4 linked regions of the Homo sapiens genome follow. The protein of the gene in region 2 purifies or fractionates together with the protein of the main gene of each other region. This does not show direct contact. Each region holds a gene or a part of one and is shown on either strand. Other genes may lie near its edges.

Evidence for each region. The genes of interacting proteins can lie anywhere in the genome.
Region 1: the proteins of SLC37A2 (region 2) and TMEM161A purify together in Homo sapiens (affinity purification with mass spectrometry; one large-scale study listed by BioGRID and IntAct). This does not show direct contact.
Region 3: the proteins of SLC37A2 (region 2) and EPS8 purify together in Homo sapiens (affinity purification with mass spectrometry; one large-scale study listed by BioGRID and IntAct). This does not show direct contact.
Region 4: the proteins of SLC37A2 (region 2) and USP8 purify together in Homo sapiens (affinity purification with mass spectrometry; one large-scale study listed by BioGRID and IntAct). This does not show direct contact.

What each region holds. Positions count from the first base shown.
Region 1 is NC_000019.10:19,120,386-19,125,443, forward strand, and holds part of TMEM161A (transmembrane protein 161A isoform 1 precursor), read right to left. Parts: intron 1,435-5,058; coding exon 1,374-1,434; intron 1,284-1,373; coding exon 1,140-1,283; intron 1,037-1,139; coding exon 923-1,036; intron 782-922; coding exon 607-781; intron 477-606; coding exon 380-476; intron 1-379. UniProt on the Homo sapiens protein: May play a role in protection against oxidative stress. Overexpression leads to reduced levels of oxidant-induced DNA damage and apoptosis.
Region 2 is NC_000011.10:125,068,963-125,074,020, forward strand, and holds part of SLC37A2 (glucose-6-phosphate exchanger SLC37A2), read left to right. Parts: intron 1-5,058. UniProt on the Homo sapiens protein: Inorganic phosphate and glucose-6-phosphate antiporter. May transport cytoplasmic glucose-6-phosphate into the lumen of the endoplasmic reticulum and translocate inorganic phosphate into the opposite direction. Independent of a lumenal glucose-6-phosphatase.
Region 3 is NC_000012.12:15,618,541-15,622,976, reverse strand, and holds the end of EPS8 (epidermal growth factor receptor kinase substrate 8), read left to right. Parts: intron 1-1,546; coding exon 1,547-1,660; 3' UTR 1,661-2,843; downstream 2,844-4,436. UniProt on the Homo sapiens protein: Signaling adapter that controls various cellular protrusions by regulating actin cytoskeleton dynamics and architecture. Depending on its association with other signal transducers, can regulate different processes.
Region 4 is NC_000015.10:50,479,440-50,484,497, forward strand, and holds part of USP8 (ubiquitin carboxyl-terminal hydrolase 8), read left to right. Parts: intron 1-2,041; coding exon 2,042-2,626; intron 2,627-4,835; coding exon 4,836-4,922; intron 4,923-5,058. UniProt on the Homo sapiens protein: Hydrolase that can remove conjugated ubiquitin from proteins and therefore plays an important regulatory role at the level of protein turnover by preventing degradation. Converts both 'Lys-48' an 'Lys-63'-linked ubiquitin chains.

The DNA of each region.
Region 1 (5,058 bases), on a different chromosome or scaffold from region 2:
CCTGCCTCAATACATGCCCTGCCCCCTCCCCAGGCCCCGCCTCCTGCCAAGACGCAACCCCTCCCCAGGCTCCACCTCCTAAGGCAAACGCCATCCCAAACTCCACCTCCTGCTCAGACCCTGCCTCACCACAGTCCCCGCCCCCTACCCAGGCCCCGCCTCCTGCTCAGATTGCACCCATCCCCAGGCTCCACTTCCTGTCCAAGGCAAGCCCCACTCCAGGCTCCGCTTCCTGCTCAGACCCTGCCTTACCACAGTCTCCGCCCCCTGCCTAGGCCCCGCCTCTCCCCCCCCACCGCGGTCCCCGCCAGAGTCCACCTCCACTCTGTTTTATCTTCCAACTCCGCCCCTCCTCCACCCCCACACCGCGGCATCTCACCCAGCGTCTTGAGCAGAAGTGTGCAGTTGAGGGTGAGGATGAGCGGCGTCAGGTACTGCAAGCTCACCACGGTCACATAGCAGTAGACTCGGACCACCTGTGGGCAGGTAGCAGGGGTGGCTGCAGCAGGAGGCCTTCTGGTTTGGGACGACTCCACGCCCAAAGGACCAGGAACCCCACCCTGAGCCCCAGGTTCCCTCTGGCCTAGGTCATCGGGGCGTCCATACCCTCTGCTGGATTTCACGGGCTTCGATGCGGCCAGCCTCCCTTCGCAGCTGCTCCACCCGGGCCTTGGCCAGGCACAGGTAGGCCTGCAGGTGGGGCCGGGTCACCGCCAGCCGCAGCAGGCACAGCACCACCAGCAACCAGAGGCGCCCAGAGTCGAAGGCAGAATCGGACAGCCTGTGCGGAGAGGGCCGGGGGCAAGGGACTAAGAAGGTCGCCCCCGACCCCCCAGGATCTTCCCCAGGCTCCTCCCTGAATCTCAGAGGCTAGGGCACCCAGGGGAGCCCCAGCTACCTCCTAGCCCCACCCAATACGCACAGGGAGAAACGCGTCTCCCCAAACGGCGGCTGGTGCAGGAAGTCCCGTGCAATGGGCTTTGTCCAGAGCCACAGGATGAACAGGGGAGACAGGAAGCTGGTGTGCAGGAGGAACCTGGGGGGTGAGGGCAGGAGGGAGTGAGGCCTGGGTACCCCCTCTCCTCGAGTCTCTCCCTTAAGCTCCCTAGTCCCCCCACCCACCAAGCGACCCACTTAACTGCAGCATGGGTCTGTCCTCCGACATGGTCAGTGCGTCCCGGTGGGTCTGGGCCAGCCGCAGGCCTGGGAAGGTGAGGAAGGCACCCAGCACAGAGCCCACCACTGCCAGTCCCACGCGGATAGCCAGCTTGGCCACAGGAAGCCTAGGAGAACACCAGGTCACGAGCCTGCCTGGGGGACCCTGGGAGGGTCCCAGCCTGCCCTTGCCTCCCTCCCCCATTCCCAGGACTCACGCCCAGTCCCAGCCCTGCTTCTTCAGAAGTGGCTCTAAGTTCTGGGTCATGCTGGCCAGACCTGGGGACGATAAGAAGAGGACCGAGTAGAGTGAATTCCTAGGGTCTCTAAGGCCACTCTGTTCCCTAACCCCCCATCCCTCAGGCATCCGTTTGCTTCCCAAGTAGGAATGAACAAGGGTCTGCCAGGCCCTGAGCCAGGCACAAGGACAATTTTGTGCTCTAGTTACACAGTACTTTTTACAAGAAACAAGATTGGAGTGGTGGTTCACGCCTGTAATCCCAGCACTTTGGGAGGCTGAGGCAGGCGGATCATCTGAGATCAGGAGTTTCAGACCAGCCTGGCCAATGCAGTGAAACCCCCGTCTCTACTAAAAATACAAAAATTAGCCAGGTGTGGTGGCAGGTGCCTGTAATCCCAGCTACTTGAGAGGCTGAGGCAGGAGAATCGCTTGAACATGGGGAGCGGAGGTTGCAGTGAGCTGAGACCGCACCATTGCACTCCAGCCTTGGGGACAAGAGTGAAACTCAGTCTCAAAGAAAACGAAACAGAATGCACCAGGCAGACACTCCTGATTGGGCTGGGAACATTCAGGGGTATCTGTTGAGCCTGAGCTCCCTAGGTTATAGAAGGAATCTAGAGGGGGATGAAGGACTCCTGCAGGAGAAAACCAAAGTCCTCCTGGAGGAAGGAATCCTCAATTCAGGACCCAAGATTTTTCAAAAATTAAGAGCAGGGCTGGGTGCAGTGGCTTGCACCTGTAAGTCTCAGCACTTTGGGAGGCCAAGGCGGGTGGATCGTTTGAGCTCACAAGTTTGAGACCAGCCTGGGCAACATGGCAAAACCCCCATCTCTACAAAAAATACAAAACCAGGGGTGGTGGTGCACGCCTATAGTCCCAGCTACTGTGAAGGCTGAGGTGGGAAGGATGGGTTGAGCCCAGGATGTGGAAGTTGCAGTGAGCTGAGATCATGCCACTGCACTCCAGCACAGAGCAAGACCTTGTCAAAAAAAAAAAAAAAAAGGAGCAAATTCATATGAGCTCACAGGCAAAATCACCAAATGCATAAGGAAACAAATCACCATAAAGGAGAGTTAACAGAAAAACAACAGTCAAGTTTAGGCCTCAAAGACTTCAGAAATTGGTGCTGTCAATTATGTGTCAAATGACTAAGGAAATGAAAGCTGTAATCACAGAACAAGTGACATGAGAATTCCTTCAGATGACTGGGTAGAGTTGCAAAGGAACCAAATTAAACTCTTCCAAAGGAAAACTGTAAGTATTGAAATAATAGGTTGTTAAACAGCACATTAGGAACAGCCAAAGGAGGAAGTGATGAACTGGAAGACAGATCTGAAGAAATCACTCAGATTCCAACTCAGAAAAACAAGTAGGTGAGAAATATGAAGAGAGGCTAAGAGATAAGGAAGACAGAACAGAGAGCCCAACGCAAATCAAATCAGAGCCCCAGAGGGAGGGAAGAGAAGGAATGAAGAATAAAAGGAATTACTGGAAGAGAATGGTTGAGAAGTTTGCAGAATGAAAGACAGACACAAAGTATATCAAACCATGTAAATAAAAAGAAATCCATACCTAGACATAATGGAGTGAAACTGCAGAACACCAAAAACAAAAAAATTACAAAGCAGCCAGGGAGTTAAGACAGATCACCTACAAAGGAACAACAATTAGGCTGACAGCCAATGTCAACTGCAACAACAGAAAAGGAACAAATAGAAAGCAAAAAAGTAAGATGGTAGAAACAAAGTCAAATATGTCAGTAATCACAATAAATGTAAGTAGACTAAACTTTAAAGTTAAATGACAAAGACTGTCAGACTACATTGAAAATATCCAGCTACATGTTTTTTAAAGGATGACATACCTTGACATAAAGTCACTGGAAGACTGAAAGTAAAGGGATGTTAAAAAGATACAGCAAATACTAATCAAAAGAAAGCAAGCTAGAAAGGCTATACTACTACCAGCCAAACTAGACTAAGAAGTAGTATTAGAATAGGCCAGGCGCGGTGGCTCACACCTGTAATCTCAGCACTTTGGGAGGCCAAGACGGGCAGATCACAAAGTCAGGAGTTCGAGACGAGCCTGGCCAACATGGTGAAACCCTGGCTCTACTAAAAATCCAAAAAATAGCTGGGCATGGTGGCGGGTAATACCAGCTACTTGGGAGGCTGAGGCAGGAGAATCGCTTGAACCCAGGAGGTGGAGGTTGCAGTGAGCCGAGATTGCGCCACTGCACTCCAGCCTGGCCAACGAGAGCAAAACTCTGTCTCAAAAAAAAAAAAAGTAGTATTAGAAGACAGAAGGGTTCCATACATCATGATAAAATGGCTGATTCACCAGGAAAATGTAACAGTTCTAAATCTGTGAATAGAACTAATCTGTGAATTGTGAATAGGCTGCAAAATATATAAAGAAAACACTGACAGAATTGATAGGGAAATTGAGAGCTCTCTTGTCCCAGAGGGAGATTAACTTCTGCTGACTGATAAGTCACAGACAAAAGGTTAGGCAAGATGGAGATTTGAATTTATTAAACTCATAGAGCCAGGGAATATGTCCTTCAATTAGAACATGTGAAAAAAGGCAAAACAACAAAAACAGAATATGTCCTTCAAGAAAACAAGGAATAGTCACAAAATGTGATCACATTCCAGGCCATAGGGCAAATCTTACCAAATTTTAAAGAAATTATTTCAAATAGACCATCTGTGCAATTGAGCTAGAAATAAATATGTATTTTTTAAAGATCTATGTTTGAAAAATTTAAAAATATTTAATAATCCATAGGTCAAAGCATAGCAAGACCCCATCTCTACAGAAATCAGAAGGGAAATGTTAAAACACCCCAAACAGAATAATAAAAAATATCAGTCAAAACTTGGGTAAACTGCCAGGTGTGATGGCTCACACCTGTAATCCCAGCACTTTGAGAGGCCGAGGTGGGTGGATCACCTGAGGTTAGGAGTTTGAGACCAGCCTGGCCAACATGGTAAAACCCCGTCTCTACTAAAAATACAAAAATTAGCCAGGCGTGGTGGCGTGCACCTGTAATCCCAGCTACTCAGGAGGCTGAGGCAGAAGAATTGCTTGAACCCAGGAGGCAGAGGTTGTAGTGAGCTGAGATTGCACAGTTGCACTCCAGCCTGGGTGACAAGAGCAAAACTCCATCTCAAAACAAAAACAAAAACAAAAAAAAACTTAGGTGAACAAAAGTGAGACCTGGTAAAATATATATAGCATTAAATGCTATATATGCTATAAAATTAGAAAAGATTGAAAATTTATGAGCCAAGTAGCTAACTGAGAAATTGGAAACAAGAAAAGGAGGTACGCCAGTACTGTTCTCAAATCCAGAGGTCCTAGCCACACCAAAGGGGAAGGATCAGACAGAACAAAAGAAAACCAAAAAGAATCTGCAATTCAATAAAAATATAATTGTTTAGCAAGGTTAGTCCGTGGAGACACTCAAATTTGACCCCTATATGATAACACAAAAATTAATGTCACTGTCCATCAGCAACAGTGAGTAGTTTAGGAGCTTATATGAAATGTAAAAGTTGAAATATTTTATTTATTGATTTTTAAGATGGAGTCTTGCTCTTGTCGCCCAGGCTAGAGTGCAATGGCGTGATTTCGGCTCACTGCAACCTCTGCCTCCG
Region 2 (5,058 bases):
TGGGCCTTGGACTCCTCCTCTGTAAAATGAGGATAATAATAATACCTGTATCACACGAGTGTTTTGAGGTTTAAATGAGGTACTACGTGTAAGGTACTTAGGTCAGTGCCAGGCTGATATGAAACACTGAGTAAACACTAATGATTGACTATATTCTATTTGTTTTTCCTACTACTTTGTGCCAGGCATTGTTTATTTGTAATTTTTGTGGAACTGCAAGGTGAATGTTAGCTTCCCTGTGGAACATATGAGTGTAATGAGGCACAGAGCAGTTATGTAAGCCTGTCCAGCACCACACAGCTGATAAATGACTGAGCTGGAGTTGGAATCAAGATTAGTCTGACTCGTAAGCCCATGGTCTTTCCGCTGCCTTCCTAATGATAGTGTTGGGTGGGGAAAAGATTACATGGCCATTTGGCCTTGGACAAATTACTTAACATCTCCCAGGCTCAATTTCCTTATCTATGAAATGGAAAAAATGATGTACCTATATCACGGGGTTTTGGTGAAATTAAATGAGAAGCTGCTTAAAGCACTTAGCCCAGTGTCTAGCGTAGTTGGTATTGGCTAGGTGCTTATAAATTTCTGTGGAGGGAGAGAATCATCTCCATTAGGAGAAGAAGGAAGTCTTTGACTTGGATCTGGAGGTGTTCTGAGCAGAGGTCACAGAGCCAGCAAAGGCATGCAAGTGGAGACATGGCCTGTCCCCTGTCTCTGAAGTAGTAACATGTAGCTCCAGCTGGTAGGAACAAAAGGTGCCCCTGGACAGGAGGCTGGGAGTCATGTGGCGCCAGGTGTGTGGAGACAGCTGCAGACATCCAGGCAAGAGTCAGAGATGGCGGAGTTTCTGTCCAGGAAGATGTTGCTCTCCTCCTCCTGTTAGGCCTTCCTCGTCAGGATGACAATGAATGGCTTGTCCATGGCGTTTCAGAGCCACAGAGCACCTGGAGGTTCCCCAGCCTGGAGCCTGGCTGGTTCCTGCCTTTTGTACCAGTGTCTGTGTGGGTGCGTCTGGGGGCAGCTGGCAGCATGGGAGATGACTGTGGCTGGTGCTTATGGGGCTGGGCCCATTTCCTGGGGCCCTCTGAGGGGGATGGCCCAGAACGTGCAGAAGAAGAGCCTGTGGGAGGAAATACCAGGGTGACCACAGCTGGATGAGCAGGAATGGGCAGGAGGGTGAATTGGGCAGGCAGGAAGAGCAGGAGCTGTGAGCTCCTGTGGTGCCATTTTTCCCACACCTCGATCTTCCCCTGTGAGCTGCAAAAGGCCACAGCTGAGCTAGAATGGATGGTTCTGCCCTGTGGAGTTAGCTAAGGGCTTTCACTGCCGGATCCTGGTGCCCACTCTGAGGAGGACGCAGGGGAAAGACATTCAAATTCATACTGAGAGAAAATCTGCTGTGTGCCAGACACTTCCACATCCAGGATATCTCATTTAATCTTTATAACACTCTCGTGCAGCAGGGGAATATGATCTTATTTAAAGGAAGATCGAACTGAGGCTTAGAGACGTACAACAACTTGCCCAAGGTCACATTAAGTGGCAGAACCAGAAATTAGGACTCAGCCAATTTTGCTCGAAGTCTGATGTCTGTTTCCCTGTCCTATGGGCTAGCTCTCTCAAATCTTACTTTCCTGTTGACTGCAAAGAGGTGCATGGTAAGGGCAGCAGAAAGGGCTGTTTAAAATGAGCTTTGATGGGAAGAGGCTGCTTGGAAAAGGAAATGAGGGCTCCTGGGGAGAACCTGGAGTCTCAGCCCATGATCCCTACTCCGGCCCCCCAGAAGGGGCATGTGAGCCTGTGGAGGTCCCATCCCCCACCCCTCGTGACAGCAGCTTCTCCCCCAGCTGCTTTTTGGGCTTCCTCTTCCACCCTGCTGTTTCCTCTCTCCCTCCCTACAGTGGACTGGCGTGCACCTCATTGACCTCGGGTGGGGCTGTCTGACTCAGGCCCTGTGGGCTGGTCTAGAAGGTAGCAGCAAGGTTTCGAAATAGTCTGTATGGTTGGCCAAGGCCTTGTTTTTTCCATTCAAGCTTCTGTATCAACTGAGAGCTGGGGTCAGGGTTGACAGTCCCAAAGTAACAGCAGAATTGAGGACAGACACCAGAGGTAGAGTCCCTGAAGCCCAGGACCTCCTATCTGAGTCACTAACAGACACTAAGTTGGTGTGTGTGTGGGGTGGGGGGGCGGTGTCACTGCTCTCCTGTTGGCTTCTGGCTCAGGTCTTGTCCCCTGGACGCTTCTTGCTCAGGAGAAGGAAGGCCATCCTCCTCCCCCTCTAAGCAGGACTGCAGCTCTGCCATCATCAACACGCTTCCATCAGTGCTATTTACACAACCTTTCTTCAGAAGAGACACCAACTTAAAACCTGTTGGCTGCCTCTTCTGAGCCCCACCAACACTCCCACCCTCCCTGTTATTCCGGCTGCTGATCAGAGTCCCTGCTGCAGCATGAAGGCTGTCTTCATTCTGCCTGACCATTCAGGGTCCCCCACTCAGCTTTCTTCCCAAAGCAAAACAATCTATCCTGTATTTTCCTCTTTCCTAAGACAGACTGTCATCTGAGCCACCAGTCTCTTCTCAAATGTCCTGAGTTCCTCGTGGCTCCTGGCCAATGGCTTCTTTCTCTAGGAAGGCTCTCAGGGCAAGCCCCGAGTCATCTCGATCTCTCTGAGCATGTGCCCACGTCCCAGCTGGAGGAAGGACAGCAAACAGAGGATTCCCTGAGGGGCTGGCTGCTGCCCTGGGAGAGCTTTGCGCCTCCCAAAGAGGGTCTTGTCCTGTCTTGTGTGCTAAAGACCTGGCTCAGGGCTCTGCACCTGTGGTATCTGTTCCTGGCTGGCCTTTTCCTAGCAGGGTATCTCCCAGTGCTGGTGGAGGGCTTGTGGGGGAGGGGGGGTGGGCACTGTCACCATTGACCCTAGCTTGGTTCTTACTGTGCCCAGCCCTCTATCCTTTTCAGATCTGCTTAGTCTCAGAACAGTCACGTCCGAGAAGAGACTACTGAATCCATTTTCTCTGGACAAGTGCCAAAGTCACCTGCAGCCACAGCCAGCCTAGCCTGGGACTGGGGAGTGACTAGGGAGCCACTGGGGAACCGGGGCTGTTTCTGACATCTCTCGGGGGCAGCGTCCCTCTGCTGGGCTGTTTCTTGTTTTTTGCTGTTGCAGTGGTGGTGGCAGTCGGTCTTTTGGGGGTTTTGTTTGTTTGTTTCTAATCTGTCACTGCTTTGGGACATGCCATTTCTTGATTTTTACCCCAGAAGCATTCCTAGTGCAAAGTCTCAACAAGGTCAATAAAGTTATTATCAGGCTCCTTCGAAAGAGTAGGTTGGACTGTCAGCTAATAGTTAAGAGATAGCTAGTCAACCTCCCTATCTAACTTGGTTATTCAGTAACCAGTATCCGGTGGGGGGGAGGTGGGATTCTGAGAAGTGCCATCTCTTGCTAACAAGGTCTTTGAGGGTCATGGGACAGCCGCCCCATCTGGAGCAGCCGGGGGCCTTCCCCTCCATCCTTTGGTCCTTGGCCTACTTGCCCAGCCTGGCCCAGCCCCTGGGCTGCCATCCCCCCGTCACAGCCACCCTGGGGCCAGCTAGGCAAGGCCTGGCTGTGCATATTCTGTGCCCTGCTTCTCTTCTGGGACCTCTTGATTCACGAGGGAAGGACTGGTGAGAGGAGAAGTGAAACCTGCGGGTTCTAAACATGGAAGGAGTGCGTCAGCTGCCTTTCTGAAGCTAGCATGAGCTTGGCAGTCTTGGCCTCCGTCTAGCCTAGCCCTTAACCTGACCGAAGTTCCCAGTCTCCTGTGAACCACGGCACCTTGATCTTTCTCTTAGAACACCTGACAATGGGGAATGGATAGAGCACCAGACTCAGAGGAGGCCCAGCTCTGACTATGCCATGCCCAGCGAGTGGTGTGACTTTGAGCTCATCCCTCCATCCCTCTGGAGGCCAGGAAGGAAGTCCCAGAAAAGGCCAGTGCCAGGCCTAGTGTCACACAACACAGCTGAGGACCCCCCACCCGCCACCCTCAAGACTCATGACTCTCCTGCTATCTTGGGTGTCAGGGTTTCTACTGGCAGCATCATGGGGGACTCCAGGTGGTGGATTTCAGGGAGTTGGGGTCAGAGCTGGCGGGGACATCAGGCTACCACCTGGAGGAGGGCAGGGCTGGAATCTTGGAACCTACCAGGTCAGGATGCACGTGGGGACCCCTACTGACTTTCCTGTCTGCCCACGGGAGCAGGTGGGAGGGCCCCGGGGCTGGAGTCTCCCCTGTGTCCCACCGTAGGCTCCCCAAGAAGCCATAGGGCCCACCATGGAAGGCCAGAGCTCCAGGAGCTTCAGGGCATCCTTATGTTCATCTAGACCCAGCTATGCACAGCGGGAGGCGGGGTGGAGGGGGACAGGCTGGCAGCCACATCTCTACCTTCCAGGTAAATCCAGGGCCCGGAGCCTCCACTTCCCAGAAGAGTTTGGTTCAGCCCCTGACCCTACTCGGCTCCCCTAACAGAGCAGTGTGGGCCGCCTCCACCCCTCCAGTCCTTCTTCCTGGTCTGAACATTGGAAGCACACTGGCTGTCATCTAAGCGCCCTCTGGGCATCAGGAACAATTTCAGACTGGTTAGGTGCATCTCACTAACCCATCAATAGGTCTGAGAAAGGTGATAGACTCTGCTTTTCCAATGAGCAAAAAGATGTAAGGAATGAAACCAGCTTTTGCCCGATTCCCAAGTCCTTGCTGTTTTCTCTTATAGACATCAACTCCCTGACATCCACCACCTGGGTTCCCCCGTGATGCTGCTATGTCCCTGGGAGTGGCTGGCAGGATGAAAAAGGCCCAGGGAACTGGCCTTGAGCCTCAGTGAGGAAGCCTGTCTGCGCTTCCCACCAAAACCTACAGGGCACAGCCCTGGGTCTTCACCTGGCTTAGGCTGGCTGGGGTTCAGAGCTGCCGACCTGGGAACTCCCGCTCTCTTCAGTGGCTTCCCATCACCTTCAGAGATAGCCTAAATGCCACAGTTTGGCACCTGAGGCCCTGCGCCACGCCACCTGAG
Region 3 (4,436 bases), on a different chromosome or scaffold from region 2:
TGCTCATATGATGTGAAGCTTGAGCACATACTTTTGGAAACTTGACAAAAAGCATAATGTTCTCATTTTATATGTATTGACTAATTCTATAGGAAATTTAATTTTGACATAACAATGGAAATTAGCTTCTGAGTGAGTAAGAGCCTTAAGAGGCCAGAATCCTTGCCTATTCTTAATATTTTTTTTTTTTTGGAGATTCTAATAACGTATAGGTTATAAGATTGTAAAACCCTGGCTGTGTGTGTTAGGTCTAGTAATACATCTCAATAATCGGGAAAGATACATTAGGTAGAGATCACTGAAAATAGAGAGCCTGGAAAAGTATTTAATCACAATGGTCTGTATGAAAGCAGGAGAGTCATGTTTTCTAGATTGCTTTATACTTAAGCTTCCAATATCCTATTTTAGACTTAAAATGTGCTATATACGGGTAGTAGTTTCCAACTGTTACATCTCACAGCTCTTAATAGTTTCATGAAAATTATACTTGGACTCAAATGAAAGAATGTAGGCTTTGGCATGAAATTGATCCATAATCATCTCTAGCAGGTATATTCTATAAATTCAACAGTTAAATAATTCAGGGTAAAATCACTTCATGCGTATCACCCCGTAGCCATTCTGAATCAAGAGAAACCATATTTCCCTTGGAGGTTTTCCCTACAACATTGATCTTGAAGGCTCCATATTAAAGTTTGATTTGATTGCTTTCCATATGTTGAATATTAATAAGGATTATATATTTTTCTCAAGCAGTTTTATTACCACTATATTTAATTTTGTTGAGAGTATATAATTACTTCTTCAAGGTATGTTAGAAAATGCCATATTCCTAAAATTCTGAATTCCTTCATCCCACACCTGCCTATCATTATTGTCATTTGCTGTCACCACCCACTTCAGGATGGTCTCTTGCTTCTTGTTCTCTTCCTATTCTCTGCATGGGAACTGAGGCAGAGGCTGACTACCTGAGGTTCTTCATGTTCCTCAGCCACCTTCTACCACCTCACCCTTTCCTTGGATCTAGTTAATCTTTTAGATTATTTGCCTGTGTTGCCAGAGACTTCTGTTGATGGGAAAGGAGAAAAGCCAGCATGGTCGGAGGGTCAGAACTATATGGAGGGGAAACTGGGTGAATTCTGAGCCCACTCTGGCCTGAGTTAAAATCTTCTAAAGGCAGATCAGTATCTTGTTTGAGCCCAAAAGAGTCCTTTGATAATTTACCATGTTATTATGCTTATTGTACACATTTCCTCTTTCTCTCAGCAAACCTAGAGTACTATACATACATTATTGATTTATCTTTATCATGTTCAAATGAAAGGCCTGGTGAGTGAATTGCCTTAACAGACTTTACAAAATGAAAAATTATTAATGTGATATATTAGTGAAGTGCAGAAGCTTCACTTAAAAAGTAGAGCTGTTAGCTTTCCTAAAGAGATACTAGAAGAAAACCACAGTAGAATTTTATCCTGAGCCATTTCATGATATGACCTGCAGCCTGCACAAGTCAGTAACTATCTTGTCTGAACTGTTTATCTTTCAGGATAGCAGTGGCAGCTCCGAGTTACAAGAAATTATGAGAAGACGACAGGAAAAAATCAGTGCTGCCGCTAGTGATTCAGGAGTGGAATCTTTTGATGAAGGAAGCAGTCACTAATTTGTTTGTTTGTATTTAAACTCCATTGTTTTTGGCATTATTCCAACATGCTTTGTTTTAAGAAGCCTTGAAGGGAATGTCAGATTCATTTTTCTTGATGTAATTTATCACCATAAAAAAAAACCCATGCAAACCTGAGTGAGCACAGGATTTGCTTCTAGGCCCATTATTTTTATTAAAACTGAAAAAATTTAAACTGAATTTTTTGACCTTGGAAAATATTTTTCTTACTTTACCAAGGTGAAGTTTCCTTAATTAGACTAATTATTTTATCCCCATCCCAGGGTATAAACAGGAATTGTTTTGATAGTGGTGGAGTTATTCACTGCAACAAAGCAACAATGTTGTCCATGATTCAAAATCTAAGCAGTTTCGATTTTGCCTGTGAATATGGTGTCTGTCATTCAGGGCATAGCTCACTGTAGGCTAGCCTCTGCTTACTTAAGTCTCTTCTCTGACATACTCAATGGAAGAATATTTAGATTTATTTAAAGTTCTTAATGCCAACAGTTTAAAAAAAAATTAAAACATTTGAATGAACTGTAAAGTACAGCCATACCTTGGACATGCAAATATAAATCTATGGAGCATTCTCAAGAGAGTTTGTCATGGCTCTGTTGATTGCAACTCCTTGTATAGCTTGTATTTTGATTTAGTTTATATTCTGCTTATTATGTATACTGTGTTCTTATATATGAGAAAGCACAAATGCGAAAGAGGTCATGTCTTCTCAAAATCTAGCAAAGGAAGTAGTCTGCATTGGTGTGCATTACAGTATTTTGCTTAATGAAAGCCTCAGTTCTGAATGTTGATATGAGTAGTTAAAAGGAAGTGGGGCCATTTTATGTGTTTATCTGTGTCAAGTATTTCTGGTAATAAGAAGCACTTAATTTACACATATTTTAATCCTGTGAAAGATTCCACATAGAGAAAAGAAAGATACCTAACCTTCAACAAATGTTATTTTTGGAAACACAATTTTTGTCATTAAATGTTATATTATTTCACATATATAAAACAGATGTTATGTAAGAATGTTGTATATTTTAACATAAATCATTTAGAGAAATTATCTAGATTCATTAATTTTCATAGTGCCTTTTTCACATGAGTCAGCTGGAAAGTCTGCAATAAACAGTATTTGCTGTCTGTTAATAAATGGTTTCTGTCTCATTAGCAAAAAGGATCTGTGCTAGATCGGCTGAGGATTCGAGTTGAATGCAATGGGAAAAAGTAGAGATCCACATTTTAAAAAAACTATATATTATTCTATTTCTGAGTGGGTAGAGAAACTCTAGAATACTTTTTTCGGTTGTTTTTCTTCTTTTCGCCTCTTGTTTCATCATCTTTTCCTTCTACCATCTAGTCATATTTGGTAATGGTAATGGAACTAATTTACACTGCGCTTACGATTGCTAAATGCTTCCATATAAATGCTTTCCTGGATATTTACAACAACTCTATATGAATTATTACAGATGAGGAGATTTAGCTTCCTAGAAGCTAATTTTCCCCAGATCCTGAAGGATGTGGGAGTTTCTCATCTTCTATCTCTCGGTCTCTCTATAACACTGCCCTTTGGATAAAGTGGAACAAACATGAGCATGATAAAGGTGAATTAGTTTAGATCTTTTACATTTCATAAGGACTGATACATATGTATAATTTAGCCTTTATTGAAAGGGATAAGATGAAAGAAAATAAGATCCAAAAGTTAAGATAACCTGCGTGTAAAATAGCAGACGGATATGAAAAGAATTGGTGTAATTTACATCTTTATGCTATAAGATGCCAAAGGAATGTATCACAGAGGTAGTAATTGCAGAAAGCAGTCACATCAGCTAAGGATGTGGGGACAAAGAGAAGAGGTTCCTGGAATTTAGAATCTTGAGGGAGCAGCACCACAGAATTTGGATCCAGACATCTGAGGGGTTTGGTCACTGGTATCTGAGGATTTGAGGAAAGACCCCACAAAGCTAACAGGGGGACACAGCCTAATCAGTGTTTTTGCCTCAGGTATTCAGAAAAGATTTCAGGAATTGAACAACAGGTCAGAAAATCCATGGCTCTGGGACTTAGACTTTGGAGAAGAGCATGGCAGGTAGCTGGTGCTTGAATCTCTAAGAGGGCACAATGAGGATGCCTCTGGGAGCCTAGGGAATAGAAAACTGGTAAATTGAGCCAACTACTGCTGCTGGGAATCATTTGCTACTTACTGAGTGAAGAACCACTACTGGGGTTGTGTTGGTAGCAACAGAAAGTAAAACAGGAGGGAGAAGCCCCTTGTTCCCTCTCTAGCCTTCTATCTCCCTGTAGCACATGCTTTCGGCACAGTCTATTGAGCATGCACCTGACAAAGCCCCAAATCTCAAAGATGAGAATTAAGGGATGGATTTGAAACTGAGAGAATAACTCATAACCCATTCCAATCTCTAGTACTTAGCCTCTACACTTGCTCTTCTGTACATATCTGAAATTTCATACAACAATAATTTTTTAAATGTGGGCCAGGAGCAGTGGCTCATGCCTATAATCCCAGTACTTTGGGAGGCCAAGATGGGAGAATTGCTTGAGCCCAGGAGTTCAAGACCAGCCTGGGCAACAAAGTGACACCTCATCTCTACAAAAAAAAGTAGCCAGGTGTGGTGGCATTCACACACAGTCTGTGTTACTTTGGAGTCCAAGGTGAAAGTGTCGCTTGAGCCAGGAGTTCAAGGTTGCAGTGAGCCATGAGTGCACCACTGAACACCAGCCTGGGTGATGGAGTGAGATCCTA
Region 4 (5,058 bases), on a different chromosome or scaffold from region 2:
CAAGAGAGACTTGGATCAAATTTGAATTTTGTCCTGTAGGCACAAGGAACCATTAAAGAATTTTAAACTTGAGAGTAACATGATCATAACTATACTTTTAAAATTAGGGAAAAATAGATCAAGCCACCAAAATGTAAATGGAAACAACATTTATTTTTGTTTCTGTTCCACCTCTTATTGTTAACCTCATCCCCATAGTGGTTCTTCCTACTTTATTCTCAAATACATGCAAAAAAAAAGACAAAGGATTTTTTTTAAGAGGCAGAAAGAGAAGTGAACAGGAAAAAAATTATTTTTTCTACACTAACCTCGTTTTCTTTTTCTTTTCTTTTTTTTTTGAAAACGGTCTCACTCTCTCACCCAGGCTGGAGTGCAGTGGCGTGATCACAGCTCACTGCAGCCTCGACTTCCTGGGTTCAAGCAATCCTCCCACCTCAGCCTCCTGAGTAGCTGGGATTATAGGCACATGCCACCACGCCCAGCTAATTTTTGTATTTTTTTTGTAGAGATGGGGTTTTGCCATGTTGCCCAGGCTGGTCTCGAACTCCTGGCCTCAAGTGATCTATCCGGCTCGGCCTCCCAAAGTGCTGGTATTACAGGCGTGAGTCACTGCGCCTGGCAACTTCTTTTATTTTCTAGTAGAAAAACATAAATTCGTTTTGTAAGAACACTATGTAGATTGTTATTGGCACATGTTCTTATAAGTTTTTATTTTTCTTTCAGTACACAGTATTCTCAAGAAATGATGTTAGGGTCACTTCTCTAGTGTTAACATGCTGTTAAATTGAGGTAATAAACATTTAACTCATTAAATCAGGAACTTAGGTAGTTTATTACACAACCTGAAGGAAACTAGTTAGTATTTTACCTCATGTAAAAGTTTTTAGGGAAGATTGCATTTGTTCCCTCAGTAACATAGTTACTAACTGTGCCAGGCACAGTCTTTATCCTTTTAGAGCTTATATTCTAGGAGGGAAGAAAAATTTTAAATAAGTAATTATAGTTATTTGATCAGAATTCCGGTAGAGAAGAATAAAGTATTATAAGAGCATGTATCAGGGGACTTGGCTAGTTCTAGGAACCAGGGAAGTCTTTTCAGAGGGAGAGATGTGTAAGCCAAGACCTAATGTGGGCATTATCTAGATGAACAGCTGATAGACCTAAGTTGGGAAGGAGCATGGCATCTTGGAATAATTTTTTTTTTAAGGCAAGTATAGCTGGTATACACAGCCATATGACTGGAGAGGTAGGCAGATGTAAGACCATACAGGGCATTACAGACTATGGTAAAGATTTTAGGTGTACTGAGAGCATAGTGGGTAGCAAATCAAATTTGTTTTAAAATGAGTCCTCTGGCTATAATGTGGAGAAACAGATTGGGGGGCGGGGGCAAGAGAAGAGATGGGCAACTAGTTGAAAGCTATGCTGTAGTCCTGGTGAGAGAGGAGGTTGACATGGTCTTAGCCTGTGGTAGAAGAGATGGAGGGACAGATATAGGAGGAAAATTAACAGCGTGCAGAAGGATATGGGAAGAACATATCATGGGACTCAGGTTTTTGATTTGTGCAACTATTGGGAGAGTGAGAGTGGTTACATCCATGAGATTAGGACCATGTTTGTCGGGGTGGGGGGAATCGTGAATCCGTTTTGGCTGTATGGGGTTTGAGATACATGTGTTGACACTCAAATGGAAATATTGGGTAGGCATTTGGATACCTGGAAGTGGAACTTAAGTCTAAGTATGCCCAGGTCTAGGTTTTATGTTTTAGAATAAAGACATTTTTAACTCTTTTGTATACAAAACACTCAGGAAGAATTGAAAGTGTTGAATCAAGAGGATGTAAGTTCCAGTGATGTTTGAATATCTACCATTCAAGTTCTGTTTTATGAGAAATCTTGACACTGAGTAATTAACAAATAGATGTGCTGATAGATGTTGTCTCCACAAAGTGACACTTCTTTTATCACAACTTGATCTCAAGAACTGAGGTTATTTCCTGATTTTTGACAAAAATGTTTTGCTCTGGTTTTGTTGCTCTAGATTGATCGTACTAAAAAACCAGCAGTCAAATTGCCTGAAGAGCATAGAATAAAATCTGAAAGTACAAACCATGAGCAACAATCTCCTCAGAGTGGAAAAGTTATTCCTGATCGTTCCACCAAGCCAGTAGTTTTTTCTCCAACTCTCATGTTAACAGATGAAGAAAAGGCTCGTATTCATGCAGAAACTGCTCTTCTAATGGAAAAAAACAAACAAGAAAAAGAACTTCGGGAAAGGCAGCAAGAGGAACAGAAAGAGAAACTGAGGAAGGAAGAACAAGAACAAAAAGCCAAAAAGAAACAAGAAGCTGAAGAAAATGAAATTACAGAGAAGCAACAAAAAGCAAAAGAAGAAATGGAGAAGAAAGAAAGTGAACAGGCCAAGAAAGAAGATAAAGAAACCTCAGCAAAGAGGGGCAAAGAAATAACAGGAGTAAAAAGACAAAGTAAAAGTGAACATGAAACTTCTGATGCCAAGAAATCTGTAGAAGATAGGGGGAAAAGGTGTCCAACCCCAGAAATACAGAAAAAGTCAACAGGAGATGTGCCCCATACATCTGTGACAGGGGATTCAGGTTCAGGCAAGGTAAGCAGAAACAGTACAAATTGCCAACGAAGTGAAAGAAAATGTATATGAAAATGTGAAAACACCAGTGGCATTCCATAAAAGGGCAGGCATTTCAAATAGTCTTTTCAGGGGTGATAGAATGTACTGATCTATCCACATTTGCTCATCTATTCTCCTTTGAGGCCAGTGCCATACATTTATGAAATGATTGGTTGGGAATGAAATTGCTTTTTGTATATTACATCTATAAAATGCAATATATTTCAAATAATTGAGATAAATAGCTACATTCTTCATTTTTATGTTTGATGTATGATCATGGGAAGACTAGAGTGAAATATAATCTCCTTCTCAGTATGGGGAAACTAGATGCTAATATTTGTATGATAGAATTTATATCTGTTTAGAATATATCCAAAATCAGTGACATCTAAATGGCCTAACATTTATCTTTGCATATAGTGATTTTTTGGTCAGATCGGTGTCATTTTGTTTCTTGCTTTATCTATTTAAATAATATTGGCAAATAACCCAATTAATTTTGCCCTTGGCTACACACCCAAAATTGATAGCCGTAATTTTAGGGGACTTTTTTTGTTATTCTTTTTCAATCTCTAATAATGCTATGCTTTTCTTTTTTTCTTCATTATGTCATTAACAATGCCTTTTCCTTTTGAACACCAAGTATATGTTTATAATACCAAGAACAGTTATGGTCCTTTTTACATATGTATAAATGGAAAAAACATTTTTAGTAGTGTGGAAATGACTTCTAATGGAAGGCGGGATACCATCTTTACAGAATGTCAATTTCTATACTTCTCAAACACAATTCAGGCATGTTACCAAAATTAATTCATAGTCAAGCTGCTCTTATCCAGGGAACACTTATCTGGTAACCTCTGCTATTAAAAAAGATAGCTTCCATCCAAAAACCTTCTAAACACCCCAAATTGGGGATATGAAGCCCATGTACTAAAACTCTCTAATTTTATTCACAGGAGGAGCAAAACATGTGCACTCCAAGATACAATTTAAGTATTATTCATTGAGTAGCTACTATATGCCAAGTATTTTCACTGCATTGTCTTATTTACCCCTAATGATAACCCCATAAGGTATTTAATTTACAAGTGAAACTGAAGTTTAGAGGTTAAGTATTTGCCTAGGATCACATAGACAGTGAGATTCCAAAGCCACTTCTTTTCCATCTTGCTATACTAGAGGCATGCAGTCTTTAGAACTTAAATCATTCATATTTGTGGAGTCATTTAGTATATAGGTGCCAAATATTCCTACACATCTAAGATTGCATTCTTTGTGTGCTCCTTTTAAAAGTAGGAGAAATATGTAATTTATTCTAGAATAAATTTTGTTAAAATTATCACTAATTTTAAAAAGTTTTTAGTAGAGTTATTTTAAAATAAGATATAAAACAAAAATGAGTTTTTAAAAAGAATCTACGGGCCGGGCGCGTTGGCCCACGCCTATAATCCCAGCACTTTGGGAGGCCTAGACGAGCGGATCACTTGGTCAGGAGATCAAGATGATCCTGGCTAACACGGTAAAACCCTGTCTCCACTAAAAATATAAAAAATTAGCCAGGTGTGGTGGCGGGCGCCTGTAGTCCCAGCTGCTTGGGAGGCTGAAGCAGGAGAATCACTTGAACCCATGAGGCAGAGGTTGCAGTGAGCCAAGATCGTGCCACTGCACTCCAGCCTGGGTGACAGAGCGAGACTCGGTCTCCAAAAAAAAAAAAAGAATCTGTGATGTTATAAGAAGATATGAATATAGATTTTTGCATTTTTTACTATTGGTCTGTATCTTAATTTCTTCTTTCTCTTGAATACTTCAAATTTTTTGAAGCACAACTCCTTTCAAGATAACCAAAATCGTAATAGTATTTAAATAAAAGAATAATGTTCAAATTAGGTCATGGTGAATATACATTAATGATCAGCATTTTATACTTGGCCATGTAGTGTGAACCAGTGCTTCACAGTCCACTTTGATTTTCATCTTTTTTTTTTCTTCACTGATTCATCAGAGTTCTTTAGTTTTTTAAGTATTTTGAATGTGACAGTAAAATATAATAAAATTTTCAGAGGCCTTTTTTTTCTCCTTTTACATTTTCATTCTCATAGATTCGGTTGTGTTAGCTAGTAGCTTTATGTTGGGAGGAGAATTAAAGTTTTCTTTCACTTCTGTAATTTTAATAATTTTACAGCCATTTAAGATTAAAGGACAACCAGAAAGTGGAATTCTAAGGACAGGAACTTTTAGAGAGGATACAGACGATACCGAAAGAAATAAAGTAAGTAGTTTATTGCAGGAAAAAACTGGAAAAAAAAGCCAAACATGGATTATAACTATGTGATTATCTTACCACACTGCTATCTTTTATCATGAGATCTACAGTGTAAGGGGATCGTTGCCATCTTTGGTAGCTG